2 separate regions of the Homo sapiens genome follow, and region 2 is linked to region 1. The links come from fine-mapping of genetic effects on gene expression. Tissue or cell type: whole blood. Region 1 holds a variant in brackets; the other region holds the start of a gene. All regions are shown on one strand. Distances are between the middles of the regions.

Region 1 (8,105 bases):
TAAAATATAATGAAAATGCAATATGCCAAAATTTGTAAAGCCACTAAAGCAATACTTCAAAGGAATCTATAGCTTTAAATGCTCATATTATAAAAGAAAAGAGGTTTAAATCAATTATCCAAATCTCCACTGTAAGAAGCTGGTGACAGAGGGAAGGGAAGCAAATTAAATCCAAAACAAATAGAAGGAAGAAAATAACAAGGATAAAACTATCTTTCGTCACAGATGACATAGTTGTCTATGTAGAAAATCTGTAAAAATCTTAAAAAAAAAAAAAAAAAAAAGGCCAGGTGCAGTGGCTCACGCCTGTAATCCCAGCACTTTGGGAGGCCGAGGCGGGCGGATCACCTGAGGCCGGGAGTTCGAGACCAACCTGACCAACATGGAGAAACTGTCTCTACTAAAAATACAAAATTAGCTGGGCATGGTGGTGGGTGCCTGTAATCCCAGCTACTCAGGAGGCTGAGGCAGGAGAATTGCTTGAACCCAGAAGGTGGTGGTTGCGGTGAGCTGAGATAGTGCCACTGTACTCCAGCCTGGGCAAAAAGAGTGAAACTCCGTCTCAAAAAAAAAAAAAAAACAACCAAACTCCTGGAACCAAGAAGGAATTATAGCAAGATTTCAAGACACAAGGTTAATATACAAAAATCAATTGCTTTCCTATATACCAGCAATGAACAAGTGGAATTTGAAGTTAAAAACACAGTATCATTTACATTAGCACTCTCCCAAATGAAATAAATTCTGTATAAGTCTAAAAAATATATACAAGATCTATATAGGGAAAACTACAACACACATGAAATAAAGAACTAAATAAATGGAGAGATATTCCATGTTCATGGAAAGGAAGACTCAATATTGCCAAGATGTCAGTTCTTCCCAACTTTATAAATTCAATACAATCTCAATCACAATTTTAGCAAGTTATGTTGTAGATCTCAACAAACTTATTCTAAAATTTACATGGAGAGGCAAAAGACCAGAACAGTCAACATAATAGACTGAAAAGACAAAATTGGAAGACTGACAATACCTAACTTTTTTTTTTTTTTTTTTTTTTTTGAGACAGAGTCTCACTCTGTCACCCAGGCTGGAGTGCAGTGGTGCAATTTCGGCTCACTGCAACCACCACCTCCCAGGTTCAAGCAATTCTCCTGCCTCAGTCTCCTGAGTGGCTGGAACTACAGGCACGTGCCACCACACCCAGCTAATTTTTATATTTTTAGTAGAGACGGGGTTTCGCCATGTTGGCTAGGCTGGTCTCGAACTCCTGACTTCAGATGATCTGCCTGCCTTGGCCTCCCAAAATGCTGGGATTACAGGAGTGAGCCAGCATGCCTGGCCAACACCACCTAACTTCGATACTTACTATAAAGCTACAATAATCAAGACAGTGTGCTATTGGTGAAATAATAGACAAATTGATCAACAGAACAAAATAGAAAGCCCAGATGTAGAACCACACAGATATAGTCAACTGATTTTTTTCCAAAGGAGCAAAGGTGATACAATGGAGCAAGGACAGTCTTTTCAGTAAGTGGTGCTGGAATAACTGGACACTCATATGCAAAAAAATATGAATCTAGACACAGGCCTTACACCCTTCACAAAAATTATCTCAAAATGGATCACAAACCTAAATGTAAGATGTAAAACTAAAACTCGTAGAAGATAACACAGGAGAAAACTTAGATGACCTTGGGTATAACGTTAACCTTTTAGATCCTTGATACTTACCCGAAAGAGTTGAAAACTTATGACAACACACAAACCTACACATGAACGTTTATACCAGCTTCATTCATTCATAACTACCAAAACTTGAAAGCACTTAAGATGTCCTTCAGTAGGTGAATGTTACATCCAGACAATGGAATATTATCCAGTGCTAAAAAGAAATTAGTTATTGAGCCTTGAAAAGACATGGAAGAAACTTAAATGTATAGCACTAAGTGAAAAAGGCTAAAAAAGGGTACATAATATATGACTGCAACTATATGACACTCTGGAAAAGGGAAAACTATGGAGACCGTAAAAAGGTCAGTAGTTGCCAGGGGTTTCTGGGGAGAGAGAGATGAATAGGTAGAGCACAGAGGATTTTTAGGGCAGTGAAACTACTCTGTGTGATATCATAATGTTGAATACATGCTATTATACATTTATTTAAATGCACAGAATGTACAACACCAAGAGTGAACCCTAAGGTAAACTATAGACTTTGGGTAATACTAATATATCAGTGTAGGTTTATCAGTTGTAACAAATGCACCACTCTGGTGGGGGATGTTGATAATGGGGAAGGCTGTGCATGTGGAGGGCAGAAAGTATATAGAAATACCATCTTTTCTGCTCAATCTTGCTATAAAGTTAAAACTGCTCTAAGAAAATAAAGTGTTAGAAACTAACCATTAAAAATGTTAAATTGGATTTCATTAAAATTAAATCTTTTAGTGCAGTGGCCCAGCACTTTGGGAGGGCAAGGCAGGCAGATCAACTGAGGTCAGGAGTTCAAGACCAGCCTAGCCAACATGGCAAAACCCCATCTCTACTAAAAATATAAAAATTAGCCAGGGATGGTGGTGCATGCCTGTAATCTTGGCTACTCAGGAGGCTGAGGCAAAAGAATTGCATGAACCCTGGAGGCGGAGGATGGAGTGAGCTGAGATCATGCCATTGCACTCCAGACTCCAGCCTAGGTGACAGAGCAAGACTCTATCTCAAATTAAAAAAAAAAAAAAGTCTTCTGTTGGTCAAAAGATGTCAAGAAAATCAAAAGGCAAGCTACAGACTGGGAGAAAATATTTCCAATCACATACAAAGGAGTTGTGTACACAGTCATGTATTGTGTGTGTACTTATCAATTATACACATAAAATCTATGCGTTTCATTGCATGTGAATTTTGACTCAATACAAATTAAATATATTACATTTTTCAAAATAGATTTTTTTTTTTTTGACGGAGTCTTGCTCTTGTTACCCAGGCTGTAGTGCAGTGTCGTGATCTCGGCTCACTGCAACCTCCGCCTCCCAGTTCTAGCGATTCTCCTGCCTCAGCCTCCCGAGTAGCTGGGACTACAGTTGTGTGCCACTATGCACACACACTAATTTTTTGTATTTTTAATAGAGACAGGGTTTCACCATGTTAGCCAGGATGATCTCGATTTCTTGACCTCATGATCCGCCCGCCTCAGCCTCCCAAAGTGCTGGGATTACAGGTGTGAGCCACCGCACCTGGCCCCAGATAGGATTTTTTTTTAAAGGAACTTATAGCAGGTGCAAAATGATATGCCTTGAGTCTTGATCCAACCTGGAATTTTCAACTATATTCTATTATTCTCTTAGAGTTTTAGCCTAACCACAGTGTGAACTCAGAGGCATGGTATAGCTTGGTAGATACTCTTCCTAGCTTCCTTTCTTTTTGGTTCTCTGCCTGTTCCTGCCACAGAGGAGCAATATCTAGGAAAGCACTTTTGGCCTTTCTCTTTTGACCATATTGCAGTACCCTTCTTGAGGGACCAAACTTTTGTTTTGGCAAGAGGCTTCTAATGACTTCACAAACTCTGCTACTGATTCTACCCCATAAATGCTGGGGTAGAATTGGTTTTGTTCTTTACAGTCCACTTCGACTGGCCAGTGTCATCCTTCTTGATCTATCACCGGGATTACCACAATTTCCCATTACCTGCTCCCACCAATAATCACAGGGAGATTTCTCCATCTAACATGATTCTGATCATGTCACTGTCTTGCTTTAAATCCTTCTGTGACTCCCTAAGACCTACAAAATGAAGTTCAAATTTCTACACCAGAAAAGGCCATGGTCTGGCCTCTTCCTATTTCCCCAGTTACTTTTCCTTGCCTTATTATTGTCTTCCTTGAGACAGGAACTTTCTCTGCAACCCAGGCTGGAGTGCAGTGGCATGGTCACAGCTCACTGCAGCCTCAACCTCATCAGCCCAAGTGATCCTCCTACCTCAGCTTCCTGAGGAGTAGCTGAGACTAAAGGTGTGTGC[T/C]CCCATGCCCACCTAATTTCTTAAATATTTTTTATAGAGATGGGGTCTCCCCATGTTGCCCAGGCTGATCTTGAACTTCTGAGCTCAAGTGATCCTCCCATTTCAGCCTCTCAAAGGGCTGAGATTACAGCAGTGAGCCACCGCACCCAGCCTTCCTTGCTCTTTACTGTTCAAAGATTGTGCATCTTTTGTCATGCCTCTACCCATCCTATCCTCTTGCCTGGTGAGCCCTGCCCTGCCCTTGTGCCCATGAAACAGGATCATCATGCAAACTTGTCATACTTCAAGACCCAAGTCAATGAAATCTTGCAGGACACCCCCAGCACAGTCAGGCTCACTATCATCCATTATCTCTTTGACACATTGTATTGCATCCATTTGCTAAGTAGTCTGAATGCTCCCTGAAAGCAAGTTTTTTTTTTATCTTTTCATTTTTTTTAACATCCAGCACTTAGCTCAGGTTCATTTTTTCAAGAGATAAATAAGAGAATGAGGGAGGGAATTGAATGAGTTTTCCCACTTTTGGAGTTTTCTTGAGCAATCCATAAAATGCAAATGCAATCTCTCCTCCCACACACAGGGAACAGACTCATCAAAGTCTTCCTAGTTCAGGCTTACAATTTAAAAATACAAACATATGTCTCATTCACCATAGCAGCCATCTAATGAGCTCTATGCCTAGCTTGGGACTGTTCTTTGATTGAGGGCTGCTAAATTTATGCTGAGAATATTAATAGGTGCATGAAGGGGCATAGGTATTAGGGCCTTAGGAGGCCCTTCCCTTCTGATATCCACCTACCCCTTATGCCTGAGGAACAAGTTTCTTTTGGTTTGCTTTTTCGTTTTTCACAGGGTCTCGTTCTATTACCCAAGCTGGAGTGCAATGGTACAATCACAGCTCACGATAGCCTCAAACTCCCTGGCTCAAACAGTCCTCCCACCTCAGCCTCCCAAGCAGCCAGCGCTACAGGCATACGCCGTCATGCCTGGCTTTTTTTTTTTTTTTTTTTTTTGTAGAGATAGGGTCTCACCATGTTGCCCAGGCTGATCTTGAACTCCTGGCCTCAAGTGATCCTCCTGCCTTGGCCTCCCAAGGCTCTGGGACTGCAGGCATGAGTCACCATGCTCAGCTAATTTTTTTTCTAATTTTTTTTTTTTTTTTTTTGGAGAGACAGGGTCTAGCTATGTTGCCCAGGCTCATCTCTAATTTCTGGCCTCAAGCAATCCTCCCACCTCACCCTCCCAAACTGCTGGGATTACAGTCATGAGCCATTCTGCCTGGCCAATTATTTTTTTTAATTAAAAAACAAACAAACAAACTGAGTGTGTCACGTTGCTGAAAAAGCTCTGGGCTTGTTCTCATGCCTCAGCTTCATGGGTTCTAAAGTGACCAACTTCTCCATTTAACTATCTTCCCTAAGGAAAGGGTCTGAACCAATGATTTTCAGATGTCCTGAGAACATCCGGCTTATTTTTCTTCACCCAGTATGTTTATGCTGCTGTTGTCTTAGTGGCAGGATAATTTCAAACCGCATCCAGTGTGCAGGAGGATTTCCATTCCCTCTAAGTTCCTGACCACCCTATACATTCTAGATGGGTACTTAGTACTTAAAATATAAACCACCAAAAATTATTTCCTATTAATCACTGTATTGATTCACCCTAACATGTTGAGAATCAAGACAGTTTTTTTTTTTTTCTGATGGAGTTAAAAAGCAAAGAATATTGTGGAACAAAAACAATGACTGGGTGCTGAGATTGTGGCCAGATGTCAGGGCTGGCCCGGAAATCTTACACAATCACAGAGGATGGAAAACTCATCTTCCTTAGGCATTAAGTAGGCGTCTTCCCTTAGGGAGGGTTTGAGTTCCCTGCCACATCTTCCCAGTTCACTGGACCACAATGGAGGCAGGAACTCATCAATTACAGGCGACTCAGATCCCAGCACATTTTCCAAAGCACTTCTTGTTTTTCAAGCCCCGTATTCCCAGAACCAGCTAATTTCGCTTCTTATTGGGAGGTAGGAAAAGTCAGAAAACTGCAAATGGAAACCTTTAGCCATTGAGGATGAACAAAGCTGGTGGAGACCAGCCCTCCCTAGGTGGATGTGCAAAGGGTTCCTCCCCGCAAACCCCCACCCACCTTGCTCCACAGCTGCAGCTGCACCTCTCCCAGATGCCAGGGTCTGGACTCAGAGCTCCTCATCCCTTGGAATGACCTGGGTGATAGGAGCATCTGTTATACTGTCTGTAGGTGACTTTTGCTGGGCTGCTGAATGAGAGCTTGTCACCAGAACGACCAAGCCATGATCAGAAGCCTAGAACTTTCACCCCTACCCCTCATTCTCCAGGGAGGAGAGAGGGTCTAGCGATTGGGTTAATAATCAATCATGCCTTTGTGATGAAGCCTCCATTAACATCCCTAAAAGATGGAGTTCAGGGAGATTCCAGGTTGGTGAATGCATCCACGTGCCAGGAGGCTAGTGCACTCTAACTCTATGGGGACCTGTGCTGGGGACCCTTCTAGACCTTGCCCTATGCTGTACCTTTTCATCTGGCTGAAATATCCTCAGTAATAAATTGACAATAGTAAGTAAACTGTCTTCCTGGGTTCTGGGAGCTGCTCTAGCAAAATATTGAACCCAAAGAGGGGTTCATGGGAAGCTCCAATTTGTAGCCAAATCAGACAGAAGTTGTGGGTGTCCTGGGGACTTACTACTTGTGATTGGCATCTGAATTGGGGGCTGGTGTTGTGGGACTGAGCCCTTAACCTGTGAGGTCTGTGCTAACTCTGGTCTGTGTCAGAACTGAATTGAATTGTACGACACCCAGCTGGTGTGGGAAAAGTGGCTGGCATGGGAAAAAGTGTGCACATCTGGTCACAGAAGTGTTGAGTGTGAGTATAGAGAAAAACTGTTTTTCCACTATACACCTGCCCATTGCCAGGCAGGAGACTGGGACTGGGGGTGTTGGGTTCATGTTAGATTCAAGGACACCCATCATAGCTGTGATCCACGGATTGGGAGACCACCACTGCCACTGCAGGTGTCTTTCAAGACCCACAAAGTAAGTGACTAGACACAAGAATGTGGTTGCTGAAACCCTAAAAAAAAAACCCAAACCCCCAAACCCCCCCGCCCCCCCCCCGCCATCCCCCACCGAGCTGTGCTTGCCAGGGGAAACAGGCAAAGGGGCAGGAAAGGGATTCCATCTCATTTCTGCCTTCCAGGTTGCACCAAGTGCATCTCATTGAGAAGATCATAACGGAACCCTTTCGCTGTGTCCCTATGTGGGTGACAGACCTTCCCGGGCTCACTTTCCATCACATTTTTTTTTCTTCTCCCTTTGCTTTTTTTTAAATTTAAATTTTTAACTTTTTAGGGGTACACAGTAGGTGTATATATTTATGGAGTACATGTCCCTTTGCTTTTAAAAAGCTCTTCCCCTGTGGACTTAACACTACAGAAAAGTACCCAAAACAGAATGTCCAGCACAATGATTTATCAAAGCAAACCCTTGTGTAGCATCACTCAGGTGGGGAGCTAGAATGTTAGCACCCCAGGAGCCCCTCTCATTCTTCTCCTGATCCTTCCTACTTTCTTCCTCCAAAGTGATCATGAACCTGATTTTGATGGTAGTCACTTTGGTGGTGTTACCTTGTAATGTTTTTGTCAGTTAAGCATGAACTCCTAAATACTATGGCTTTGTTTTGCCTGTTTTGAGATTTATATGAATAGCATTATGCAATAGTGTATTCTTTTGCATGTAGCTTCTTTGCTGAACATTTTGAGGTTGATCCAAGTCTGTTGCTCGATGGCCTCATCTGAAGACCTAATGGCTTTGGGACACCTGAGAAGCACCCTAGGGATGTGTCAAGTTGATTGGTTGGATATACAGATGTAACAAGATAAAACCTTAACATTTTGATATTTTTCCTCTTCTTTCCTAAAAGTTCCCACCTAACCAATTGAAGTGGTGTCATTTTCTGGGGTAAATACCCGAGGCTCCTCATTTTACACAAGGAAATCGAATATGTGGACACACAAGAAGTGGCTTTAGGGGCAGAGATTTAATAGGCAAAAGAAAGA
Region 2 (8,105 bases), 150 kb before region 1:
TGAGATCACGCCACTGCACTCCAGCCTGGGCCACAGAGTAAGACTCTGTCTCAATAAATAAATAAATAAATAAATAAATAAACAAACAAACAAACAAATAAATAAGGGTTAGGATGGCAAATTTTATGCAATGTGTGTTTTACCACAATTAATTTTTTTAAAAAGTTTAAACAAGAAGTAGCAAACTATAATGAAGAAATATGTAAAAAAAAAAAAAAAAAGAAGCAAAAATATGAACAGTACAGGATCGATGTGTTCCCTGGGAGAAGATAGAGACAAAAAAGAAGGGCGTGGCCTCAGCTCCACTCTGTGCTCAGGGTGAGACCCAGGCTTCCCTCTCCCCTGACCTCCTCTCTCTGGCCACTGCATCCTCTGTGCTCTGGCCACTGGGCCTTTCTCTGCCCCTCCGGCATGTCCAGTGTGTTTCCATACTGAGGCCTCTGAGCCTTCTGTTCCCTGTGCCTGATGCTGTTTCCTCAGATTGTCACACAACCAATATTTCTGGAGCGTGTACTGTGCGCCAGGCACCCTGCTAGGCATTTTGAAGCACTCAAGTGAGCTGCCTTCCTGGAGCTGCTGTTCTAGCAGACAGTAAGCAAAACCAAGCAGGGTGAGGGGGACTAAGAGTGGCAAGGGGTGTGTAGCAATTTTATTTATTTATTTATTTGAGATCAGGTCTCGCTTTATCACCCAGGCTGGAGTGCAGTGGTGCAATCCTGGCTCACTGCAGCTTCGGCCTGCCTGGTTCAAGTGATCCTCCCACCTCGGCCTCCCGAGTAGCTGGGACTACAGGTGCCTGCTACTGCACCCAGCTAATTTTTGTATTTTCGGTAGAGACAGGTTTTCACCATGTTGACCAGGCTGGTCTCAAACTCCTGACCTTAAGTGATCCTCCCGCTTTGGCCTCCCAAAGTGCTGGGATTGTAGGCGTGAGCCACCATGCCTGGCCTGTGGGTAGGAATCATTAGGCTCAGCAGCATGAACAAAGTGACATTTGAGAAAAGATGGGAATGAGGCAAAGAAGTTAGTTGTGCAAACATCTGGTGGAACCACTCCAGGCAGATGGAACAGCCAACCCCAAGCCATAGGGCAGGACCTGCTGGTGTAACGGGCCCAGAGTTCAAGTCAACAATCAGACTTAATGACATAATTAAAGGTGCTCAACTTCATGAGTCATCAGGAAAATGCAAATTAAAACCACAATATGGCACCTCTACAATGCACCAGAGCAGGGAAAATGGAATAAACATCACTGACACTGACAAGGACAAGGAATAAGTGTAGTTTCATCCCCTGCTGGATATAAACTAGTACAACCACCATAGGAAACTCTTTGGCAGTGTCTACCAAAGCTGAACACAGGGCCATCCTATGCCCTGGCGATTCCATGCCCAGGTATATGCCCAAGAGAATGGCATTCATATGTTCCCCAGAAGACACACACAAGAATGTTCACAGCAGCACCATTTATCAGAGTCAAAAATGGAGTCTGGACATGGTGGCTCACACCTGTAATCCCAGCACTTTGGCTGGTGGAGGCGGGAGGATTGCTCGAGGTCAGAAGTTTGAGACCAGCCTGGGCAAGATAGCGAGACCTCATCTCTACAAAGGATTTTAAAAAATTAGCTGGGTGTGGTGGCATGTGCTTGTAGCCCCAGCTACTCAGGAGGTTGAGGTGGGAGGATCACTTGAGCCTGGGAGGTCGAGGCTGCAGTGAGCTATGATTGTGCCACTGTACTCCGACCTGGGTGATAAAGTGACATCCTACCTCTAGAAAAAACAAACTGAAAAAGCTTGGTCCCTCCATTTCAAATACTGAGATTTCATAGATGAAACTACTTCAGAAGTCTATTGAACCCTCCTCTATCAAGGCAATCACATTTTCATTCAGCTTCTGGGGGGGAAATGCCTACTACAAATGCCATCCGTGATTGAATGGAAGCAAATCATTTTGGGGACAATTCTGATTTTAGTGGCAAGGAGGTATCTGAGCTAAGAGCTGCCGGGAGGACTCTCACCCATGAGAAAACCAGCCCTCCAGGTCATTCCTATACTTCACTGTCAAATCTCCCTTTGCCTGTTCCGGCAGCTTTATTCATAATAGACAAAGATTGGAAACATCCCAAACCCCCTTCAGCAGGAGACCGATATACACATTGTGTGTGGTATGTGCCTATCACGCAATAGGACTCAGTGCTTCGAACAGGGCGGGAGGTGGGAGGACAAGCGAGGATGAGCGTGGAGTCCTCACATGGCAGAAAGGCAGAGGATCAAGCCAGCCCACTCCTGCAAGCCCTTTCTACGGCATCCCAAATACATTCATGACTCAAATACCCCCACAAAGGCCCCACCTCCCAACACTGTTGCAATAAAGATTACATTTCCAATGCTTGAATTTAGGGGGACACTAACTACCACATTTCTTGCTAACATACACATCTCTTTAGGGAAGGTCTTTGGACATCACTTTTTTTTTTAAGACAGGATCTTGTTCTGTTACCCAGTCTGGGGTGCAGTGGTGCGATCACAGCTCACTGCAGCCTCAAACTCCTGGGCTCAGTTGATCCTCCCATCTCAGCCTCCCAAGCACCTGGGACTACAGGTGTGCATCACCACGCCCAGCTATTGTTTGTATTTTTTTTTTTTTGTAGAGACAGGGTTTTGTCATGTTGCCCAGGCTGGTTGGACATCATATTTTGAGCACATTTCTGGCTGTTTTTAAGATTACATTCCTAGGAATGTTGGTGAATTGATGGGGGACAAAAACATTTGTTTCCCCTTGAGAGGCAATGGTACAGGGGAGGGGTTAAGAGCATAGACCCTAGGATCACATTGCCTAGGGTTGAATACTAGCTCTGCCACTTACTGGCTACAAGACCCTGGACAAGTCACTTCCTCTCTGTCTCTGTAAATGAGCATAATAGCAGCACCTGCCTCAGGGGGTTGTTGAATAGGTTCAATGAGCTAATATATAAGAAACACATGGTATATGCTATAAAGTGTTGTCTTCTTTTCCTTCTCCTCCTCCGCTCCCTGGGATTATTACCATAATGATACAATTATCATTTGTTCTTTCTGTAAAATGGAGTTTGATGTTGGAGCTGCTTCCTAGGCAGTCAGGCAGGGCAGTCACTGAGAATGAGGACGGCGTTTCTGACTCAGCTGTGGGCGGGCAGCTGCAGTGACACAGCTGAGTCTTGGCAAACACTTTTCATGTACGAAGCCTGACCCTGGAGTCTTGAGGCTGAACTTTTCACCAACAAACAGGAATGCATTCATGAATGTTACCTCTGGGTGCTGTCCTCTGGAAGCCATCTGCATAGCCTAACTCTGCCACCCTGGCTTGGACAATTATGGTGATTTCTCTGATGCCCCTGATACTACCACCTCAATCTGAATTTAGCAGCTCCCTTCACATATGGTTAGATTGCCTTTAAAGAGATTTTTTTTTTTTTTAGAGATGGGGTCTCACTATGTTGCCCAGGCTGGTCTTGAACTTGTGGGTGGGCTCAAGCAATCCTCCCACCTCAGCCTCCCAAAGTGCTGGGACCACAGGTGTGAGTCACTGCACCCGGCCTAGATGTCCTTTTTCAAACGTAAGCAATCATGCTCAGGTTTAGGATTATTCGTGCCTGGGTCCCCCTCCCATACTGAATTGCTATGGACAGCCAGCTAGTCTTCATCCTGCACCCCCCAGCCCCTGTGCAGCGTTAATGAGCCAGAAACGCTGATTCTGCTGCTGAGTTCCGTGGAACCCCCTGGGGCATTTTCCTGACTACCCCCAGTGTGGCCAATCCGTGTCCACTGAGGATGAATGTGACTCCAGGAAAATACATGAAGTAACTCTGTGCCAAGCTTGGTGAATGAATTGAGCCATGCCAATTCTGTGCTATAAATAAATTTACAAGACTGGTTTTCTTGCGTGGCTCATAAGCCAGGTCTAGCTGCCACTCCCCCAGAAGTCTTCCAAAAAGTATTTTGAGCAGGACCTTTAGACTGGGGTGTTGGAGTCCCAAGGCCAAGGCCGACCGCGCTGCTCTGGGCCCAGCGGGCGTTCCCACACGGGGCTGTAATGCCACGATTGGCCGCAGGAGGGGGGCCGTATTCCAGACCCCATTGCAGAAGCCTCCGCAACTGCTCCAAGAACTTTATTTTATACGGACTGGCGGCGAGAGCAGCTGCAGTTCGCATCTCAGGCAGTACCTAGAGGAGCTGCCGGTGCCTCCTCAGAACATCTCCTGATCGCTACCCAGGACCAGGCACCAAGGACAGGGAGTCCCAGGCGCACACCCCCCATTCTGGGTCCCCCAGGCCCAGACCCCCACTCTGCCACAGGTTGCATCTTGACCTGGTCCTCCTGCAGAAGTGGCCCCTGTGGTCCTGCTCTGAGACTCGTCCCTGGGCGCCCCTGCAGCCCCTTTCTATGACTCCATCTGGATTTGGCTGGCTGTGGGGACGCGGTCCGAGGGGCGGCCTGGCTCTCAGCGTGGTGGCAGCCAGCTCTCTGGCCACCATGGCAAATGCTGAGATCTGAGGGGACAAGGCTCTACAGCCTCAGCCAGGGGCACTCAGGTGAGTCTTGGTACTAATTTTGTCCTATCTCCTGGGCATGCTGTCTCAAAGACAGCTGGAGGAGACTGGAGTGAACTGGATGGAGAGGAGTACAGAGTTTGGGAAACTTCAGACCTAGAGCCTGGAGGTGCCTTCTCCAGGTGGGAAGGTCCCCGCCTGCTGGGCCCGCAGATATCTGCCGGGCCCTCATCCAACTGCCTGGGCTGGAGAGAATGTGAGCCTGCATTTGGGGTGCCAGAGGGAAGCTATTGCCTTGGTGGCTACTCCACCTGACTCATGTCACAGCTCAAGAGCCTACTCAGGGTGCAGATGGCTCAGGTGACAGCTCCTCTCCATGGCTTCGTGTGTGTGCATGTGTGTGTGTGCATGTGTGTGTGTGCATGTGTGTGTGTGTGCATGTGTGTGTGTGTGCATGTCTGTGCGTGTGCATGTGCCAGTGGTGGGATATATGTGGGGAGAGGTTATTTCTAAAATATCTGTCTCTGTCCAGCTTTGGGTTATGATTTAGCTTAACTAAGTACAGTTAGAGGAGGAAAACATTTAAAACCTCCTTAGTGATTCTCTCTTTGGAGAAGGGCCACACTCATGTGATTTTTTTCCTTGGTTTTGATGAGTTTAAAGTGAGGTAATCCAAAGAAAAGCCATAAACCCTGCAGAGTTAGATGCGGGTACCCAGAGAAACTGACTTGGTAGCAGCAAATGAGGCTCGTGCTACCCACTCAGAGGAGGAATTAATGGAGTCCTTCTGATCTCCAGAGAAGGATTGAAGAGCCAGGGTCCTGATATCAGCCCTAGAGTGCATTCGCGATTGCCTTTTACAAAGGGAACTTCAAACAGCTTTGTTTCTGAGACTGGCTAGGTAGGAGGGAGGCCTTGGGAACCTGGACACCCCCTTACCTGGCTGCCAGGCAGAGTCAGAAGATGCTGGGGGATGCTTTTTCTCATCAGACTGCCACCAGCTCCCCTGAGTGACCTTGTTCATAAAGTCATGCCACATGCATTATCTCACGGGAGGCTCACAGTGATCCTGGGTGACCAGCAGCTACCCACCTTCCCATCTTAGAGGTCATGTACCTGAGGCTGAATGAGGTCAGGTAATTGAGCCAAGTTCCCCCAAGAAACCAATACGCAGAGGAGCTAGGATGGGAGCCCTTGGCTTCTGTGTTCCCTGCATTCCTGCAGAGAGCCAGGCCTGCAGGGCGCAGATGGCCCCAGGGCACAGGGCTGCAGGGCACAGATGGCTGAGGGCTTTTCCAGCTCTAAAATGCAGAATCTAGAAGCAGATCCCTGGCTCTGAACCTGCCCTTCTAAGTGCCTTGGGTGAAATTGTCTGGAAGTAAATCATGATTGCCAAGAGGTTAGTGGAGAGGGTGACACCTCCCTGTTAGAGCAAGACCTCCCTCTTTGAGTTGCAAGTTGAGGTCCAGTCTCCTTGGGCTTCATCCACAGGTCACTGTGGCTTCCACATCTCGCCCATGTGCTTCAAGCTCTCAGAGCCCTGCCTCAGTCCCAGGATCCCCACCTGCTGGAGTACACTGGCTGGCAGTCTGAGGTGGGATTCTCTTCTCTGCCTGATCTGGGGCCCAGAAAGTGGTCACCAAAGGGGCTGACATGCAATTCCCAAACAAAGCAACCCTGCAGCTGAGCCAGTGCCCTGTGTAGGAAAACTGTGCCCGGGGCCTCTTCCCGCTCTGATATCCATTCCTTCCTTTGCCTCTTTGGTCTGGGATGGCTTATGTTTAAAATGGGAGGGACGGAATGCAAATGCCATCAGCCTACCCCCAACACAGTGCTCCTGGGAGGAGCACTTGCCATCAGTTTCATCTTCTAGAGCACAGACTTGGTCCAAAGACAGTAAGATCCATGATCTGAGGGTCCCAATGCCTGCTTCCTCCCCCAAGAAAGAAAAACAGCCCCCAAGAAACCTTGGGCAGACAGAACATGCGTAGGTTTCAATTCCAAGTAACAAACATGAGTAGAGTTGTCTGAGCTTTTCCAAGCCCTGTGCACTCACATCTGGCCCCGCTCGGCCCCAGTCCCTCTCCCCAGCAGATCCCCTGGGCTCCTGCTGGACCAGCTGAGGGGTGGGGAGGAGGAAGGAGACAGCTGCCCTTCACACACATTCTGGCTAACAAGCCGTGCATTCCAGCCCCGTCCCAGGAGCTGACCAGAAGAGGAGGAAGGTGGAAATGGCAGTGGGGCCTCACACCTCCACTCCCCAGGGGCAGCGCCCTGTCTGGCTCTGTGTGGCCTCTGGGAAGCAGAGGCTATTGCCTTTGGCAGAGGGAGGGTTATTGCAGGCAAAAGAGACATTGGCCTCCTGCTTCACAGCCCCGCAAGGAGTGAAGCCAGAGGGAGGGCTGCCGCACACAGTGCTCATGAAATGAGGGAGGGTCCCTTGCAACTTAGCAGTGCTGGAGCTGCCCGCGGCCCCACCTAGAGGCCCTGCCTGGGTGGAGGCATTGGGTGGAGGGCCGGAATTGGGAGCCCAGTGAACTGGACACCACTGCAGCACAGGGAAGCCAGAGTGGGTGGTGTCTGGGGCAGGGAGGAGAGATCCTGGCAGAGCCGAGGACCACCCCCTGTTCCATCCCTCCCATAGGCTGGAGGAGAGGCCCGCAGATACTGGGAGCCCCAAGGCTGTGTGTGTGCACATGCGTGTGTGTGCCCGTTATGGGGGATGTACAGAAGGGCTAACAGCAGAGGCGTCCAGCCCTCCTGGGTCATTAGAAGGACATGTATACAGTGACTGGTCAGTTCTGGTCTCTTCTCAGCCCAAATGTCAGAGGTCTGTGGAGGCCAAGCTCAAGTCATGAAAATAGGGGCTTCAGCTGGGTGCAGTGGCTCACACCTGTAATCTCAGCACTTTGGGAGGCTGAGGCCAGTGGAGCGCTTGACTCCAGGAGTTCCAGACCAGCCTGGCCAACATGGTGAAACCCCATCTCTGCAAAAAATTAGCTGGACATGGTGGCTTGTGCCTGTAATCCCAGCTACTCAGGAGGATGAGTTGGGAGGATCACTTGAGCCCGGGAGGCGGAGGTTGCAGTGAGCCAAGACTGCACCACTGCCATCCAGCCTGGGCAACAGAGTGAGACCCTGTCTCAAAAAAAAAAAAAAAAAAAAAAAAGAAAGAAAGAAACAGAAAAAAAAAAAGAAGAAAGAAAATACGGAATTCTTGTTTTGCTCTGCTGCAGAGCAACCCCGCCAGCCGCCTTCCCTGATTATGTCTATTTATGAAAGTTGCCACGCCTCCTTGCCCACCCTCCCTCTGAAGAGAAACTGATTGACTGATCTCTCAATCAACAGGCATTGTCCCCCCACTGCCACCTGCCAGCCCTGCATCCTCTCCTCCCAGCCTCCTCTGGGTTGAAGGGTTGAGTTTGCTCCATACTGGGCCTGGGACCCATCCTCATGGGGCTTTTATCTTCTAAAGGATGCTGTTCTTTGGTTAAATGTCCAGATAGTTAAAGAGAATCAGAAGCAAAGGTCAAGATAAACTCATGGCTGGAACCTTGATGAAAGTAGAGAATAAT

The links. PIP is the estimated chance that this variant, and not a neighbour inherited with it, causes the effect.
Region 2: it holds the start of SCARA5, and the variant in region 1 is fine-mapped to the expression of SCARA5 in whole blood (INTERVAL, PIP above 0.99).

What each region holds. Positions count from the first base shown.
Region 1 is chr8:27,842,424-27,850,528 of GRCh38, reverse strand. No RefSeq gene overlaps it. Among named protein-coding and RNA genes, the nearest start is that of PBK, 8.7 kb to the right of the region's middle. The variant T/C (reference allele first, on the strand shown) is at 4,019.
Region 2 is chr8:27,988,724-27,996,828 of GRCh38, reverse strand. It overlaps SCARA5 (scavenger receptor class A member 5), which reads left to right and starts at 4,156. Exons shown (of 9, transcript NM_173833.6): 1 at 4,156-4,572.